2 separate regions of the Homo sapiens genome follow, and region 1 is linked to region 2. The links come from fine-mapping of genetic effects on gene expression. Tissue or cell type: whole blood. Region 2 holds a variant in brackets; the other region holds the start of a gene. All regions are shown on one strand. Distances are from middle to middle.

Region 1 (2,500 bases), 58 kb before region 2:
TAATTCTAGGGGAGAGGAGCACACAAAATTAATCTAATTTCTCCCCTTGTGACGGCCCTTCGGATGCTGATCTTAAGTGCTAACTAAAGCTGTTATTTATTGAGCCTAAACAAAACTGCGAATAAAGATAATAATACTAAATAACAATAATAAGTAACATTTATTGAGTGTTTCCTCTGTATTAGGCACTCTCTATGTACTTTCTAAGGTACAGAGCAAGGTATGTGAGAATCTGGGCTGGGATAAGCAACAAGCATAATGGAAAGCTGGAAGCACTGGTTTTTGTCACAAAGACCTGGGTTTGAAATCTGGTTCCACACATTTTCTTTGTCTCTTTGAGAATCAGTGAGCTACCAGGGTCCTAGTATGCCTGCAATGTTTAACATAAAGTGTGTAGAATGATTAAGCTAATGTCAGGCACATAGCAGCTGCCTGATGATAGCAGTCACGTGTTCATGTTGCTTCCCTCGTGTCACCACCACCAATAATATCAACATCGGCATAATATTAATAGCAAACACTGGCACAGTGCTTACCACGTGCCAGAAAATGGTTTCCGTTTACTAATTCATTGAATCCTCAAAACAAACCTACGTATGTACTATTTTCATCCCCATCTCACAGATGAGAAAACTGAGGCACAGAGATTATAAATTGTCCAAGGTCACGCAGCTGTAACCGTAATAAAAGGAAAGACGACCTTTAACTGAGCGCTTACTATAATCCACATCTTTAATGAGCTCGTTACCTACGTTAACTCTTCACAATAACTCCTTAAAGGGTGTGCATTATATCTCCACTCTACAGATGGGGAGACTGTGGCTCAGAATTGCCCATGGGCGCAAAGATTCCATCAGGGCCGAGCCTGCACTCACTCAGCCTCCCAGATGCGACGAAGCACGACTCCGCTGTCAGACTCGAACTCCGCCTCGGGGCCCCGGGGCGCCGCCTCTCTCCCCCGGGGCGCCGCCTCTCTCCCCCGGGGCGCCGCCTCCCTCCGCCGCGGCCGTCGAGCCGCGGAGCGCCTCTTCCGCGGAGCCGCCGCCTGCCAGGATTCCAGCGCCGCAGCTGCGGCCGCAGCCATTGGTCTCTGACGTCAGCGGCGTGCGGCGCACTCGGCACGTCATCGCCGCGCGCCGGCTTGCCAGGAGCTGGAGGGGGAGGTAGGCGGGGCGGCGCGTGACCTAAGGCCTCTCTGCCGCGCGCGCAGGTACGGGGCAGAAGTCGCAGGTACCCAGCTGCTGCCCACATTTCTGGTCCAGAGTCCCGAACCCCGAGCACTGGGATGCCTGGCTACTCCGGTGGGTGGGCGGCGCTCGGAGCGCGGGGATACCGAGGGGCGGGCCCCCAGCTTAGAGCGTGACCCGACCCCGCCTAATCCTTAGGCGTTCGCCCACCATTTCCCAGTCCCGTAGAGCTGGGGCCAGACACCGCACAGCCCTAGTGCTGTTACCAGTCGCTGCCTGCGCCCCGGGGGCTGCGCCCAGCAGCTTCCTGGCCCTTTTCCAGCCATTAGCGTCCGTTTTCCAGCCCTGCTGCCCCACTGAGGCCCCTTCCCACAGCAGTATCACCAGCCCCAGCCCCGCGTTGTTACTATTACTTCCCAGGCTACCAGATCCTTTTCTGCTCATGTTCCGACGTCTCTTCCTACTCCAGGGCCATTATTGGTCTCTTCTGGACCTTTCAGAGATAAGAGAGGACCTCGGTAGTGTAGGGCCCAGTCCTCTGGGAACAAGGGATGGGGAGTTTTAGGCTGCTGTCCTTGGTTCCAGTAACAGAGATACCCCCTCCACAGGCACCCAAATATGCTCCATAGAATACAATGAGTGTGGTCCTGTGGAGGCCCAATCCAAAATATCTAGAGCTGAGAAGAGATAGAGATTTTACAGGCCGTCAAATATTCAATGGGGGTCGTCTCTAGAGACTTTTAACAAACTGTATTGTGTACCCACAGATTGCAGAATGGTGAGCAAACATTTGAGACCATGTTGCTAAAGCATTAAGCTTGGAGAAAGTGACAGTAAGAATTAGACAATAGTTTTGAAGTGACCAAGAGGTTGTCACATGGAAGAATTAGACCTTGTTTTGTGTTTTCCTGCAGAGCGTTATCCAGACTAGCGAGTGGGAGGCAGATGTAAAATCTGGAACGCAGATTTTAGTTTGTTGGAAGGAGAAATGTAACATAGTGAACCACGCATCTCTGGAGGGTGTAAAGCAGAGACAGCCAAGGTAATTTTTGGAAAAGAGTGCAGGAGAGTAGAGTAAACGATGCCAGGGTTCCTTCCGACTCTGAAATTCCGTGATACACTGAGCTGTCTTTCTCTTGTGGAAGTTTGAAAGCCATTTGATAAAGTTCTCTTCATTTTTTAGAAATTTGCCCTGCTCTGGAATTCTGCATGTTCAGGTTACTTTTGGACTGTCAAGATGACAGTTCCTTAATTTGGGTTCCATTATTACCACAGCAACTGGTTTATTTGTATAGCTGTCCACACCTAGAGCA
Region 2 (2,500 bases):
GCCACCTTCACCCTGTTCCAGAATGTACCTCCTCCCTGTCCCAGAGCCCACCTCCACCATGTCCCAGAACCCACCTCTCATCTCTGTCCCAAAATCCACCTGGTCCCTGACCTAAGAATCTGCCTCTACTGTGATAGCCTAAAATCCACCTCCTCCCTGTTCCAGAACCCAGTTTGTCATGTCCCAGAACCCACTTCTTCCATGTCCCAGAGTACACCTCTCCCATGTCCCAGAATACACCTCTTCCATGTCTTAGACTCTTCTTCATCTCTGTCATTTCTCTCCTTTTCTCAACTCCAAAAGAGGAAGAATGTTTTTTCTCTTTTATTCTACTAAAATAAACCAAAACACTTGCATTGGGAAACCATAATATGCACAGATTTGCTCAAAGTGTGGATAATCAACACAGGCATCAGATTTAGAAACATTAAATGGGATGTCTGTCTTCACTGTCAGCCTAAGAGTGGTTGAGCCTGGGTGGGGTGGAGAAAATGGAGTGGGGGGTATTTGACTCATCTCACATTCAGAAAGTTGCTCAAACTTAGAATTCTCCAAAGGCAGTCATACATTCTATCACAGCATTATCCTGGCAGGTTTGAAAAAAAAAAGATATTTTTATATTGTAAATATGTGTTCCATTCCTGCACCATCTTATCTGTACTGTATTATGAATTAATATTGTCTATCAATCCTATAAGTGTCCTTGACCAGTGCAATTATATGATATCTGTAGACCACTGCTCTGCATTTGTTAGTATTTATTTGTTCAATGGCAATATTACTATACACGCAATTTTGTTAGCCCTGCTTACCATTTCTTCATCTTTTTAATTAGCTGGGAGTCTCAATAAATGGAAATGACCTGGGCCTCTGTCAACCCCTTGGAGACCCTACTAGGTGAATTCTGCAGAAAAGGATATCCATGCCTTTCAGAGGGGGATTTTGGGTGAGAGCTCCAGATAAATTGTTACTGTGCTCATGGAGAGGCGGAGAGGAGGACCAAGGGCATCTGAATTGCCTGCCTTCAGCTTGGCTGCCACCTGCATCCTCCTGCTCTCGCTGCCTTCTTTAGCGCAGTCATCCTACCCACTCCGAGACTACACAACCTATCATTACACCGTCTCATACACTCACGGGGTCCACTCAACTCCCTCCTCCTACAGATGGAAGCCCAGAGAGAAAACATGCCTTGCTCAATCAAGGTTGCAGCAAGTCAGTGGAAAATGTGCTTGCGGCCAGCCGTGGTGGCTCACATCTGTAATCCCAGCACTTTGGGAGGCCGAGGCCAGTGGATCACCTGAAGTCAGAAGTCCTAGACCATCCTGATCAACATGTTGAAACCCTGTCTCTACTAAAAGTACAAAAAGTTTTGTATTAATTTTTGTATTAATTAACTACAGGTGTGGTGGTGCACGCCTGTAGTCCCAGCTACTCTGGAGGCTGAGGCAGGAGAATTGCTTGAACCCAGGAGGCAGAGGTTGCAGTGAGCTGAGATTGCACTACTGCATTCCAGCCTGGGTAACAGAGCAAAACTCTCTGA[A/C]AGAAGAAAGAAAGAAAGAGAGAGGGAGGGAGGGAGAGAGGGAAGGAGGAAAGGAAGGAAGGAAAGAAAGAAGGGAGGGAGGGAGGGAGATGTGCTTGCTTGGTGCATTAAAGAAACTGGTATGATCACTTTGGAGAGCAGTTTGGTAGTATTCCTTAAAACAACAACAAATATGTATACACTGAAACCAACAATTTCGCTATGCTATATCTAACCTAGAGGGATTCTGGGATAGATGGAAGACTAGTTGTTTTTTCATATTACGTAATACTGTGAAGCTACTAAAAGCAGGAGCTAGATGTATATATAGCAACGTGGATAAAGCTCCTAGAAAAATAATAGGGTGAAAATTAAAAAAAAAGCAGAATTATGATTGTAGTATGATTTTATCTACATAACACGCACCTGTACACATGTGGGTATACACATGTATTTATATAAAAGCAGGGAAAGCACTAGAAGAACACACTAGTATGTTCTCCTATATAAAATGCAAAATAATTACGTTTGTAAATGCAGATAATATCCCTCAGAGGAAGCACACCAAATTCCTAAGAGTTGTAACTTCAGGGGGGACCAAGAAGGAACAAGGAATTGGGAGCAGTAGGCAAGGGAAACTCCAGCATTTTTTGTGATGTTTTAATTTAATATTTTCAAAGGTGTTTAAATACTCCGGAACAACATGCAGAAAGTTACTGGGACCGCGTCACTCTCCTATCCCTCAACCAGTTGGTTTTCTTTAGTGAAGACAGCCATTATAACAAATTTCTTATTCATCTTTTCAGGAATACGCTTTGCATTTGCAAATATTTGGAAATAGCTTAACTTTTAACTTTTAAAAAGTAAGTTTCACTTTTAACAAATAAGTATTAGTATGTTATTTGTGATATTAAAATGGTTTTTAAAGCCGGGCATGGTGGCTCACACCTGTAATCTCAGCTACTTGGGAGGCTGAGGTGG

What was found. PIP is the estimated chance that this variant, and not a neighbour inherited with it, causes the effect.
Region 1: it holds the start of HPS4, and the variant in region 2 is fine-mapped to the expression of HPS4 in whole blood (TOPMed, PIP above 0.99).

The regions. Positions count from the first base shown.
Region 1 is chr22:26,482,475-26,484,974 of GRCh38, reverse strand. It overlaps HPS4 (HPS4 biogenesis of lysosomal organelles complex 3 subunit 2), which reads left to right and starts at 1,192. Exons shown (of 14, transcript NM_022081.6): 1 at 1,192-1,301. SRRD (SRR1 domain containing) reads right to left here and starts at 1,098. Exons shown (of 7, transcript NM_001013694.3): 1 at 876-1,098. The coding sequence starts at 1,084. RefSeq lists a silencer at 915-1,004 and an enhancer at 1,025-1,144.
Region 2 is chr22:26,424,808-26,427,307 of GRCh38, reverse strand. No RefSeq gene overlaps it. Among named protein-coding and RNA genes, the nearest start is that of ASPHD2, 3.2 kb to the left of the region's middle. The variant A/C (reference allele first, on the strand shown) is at 1,541.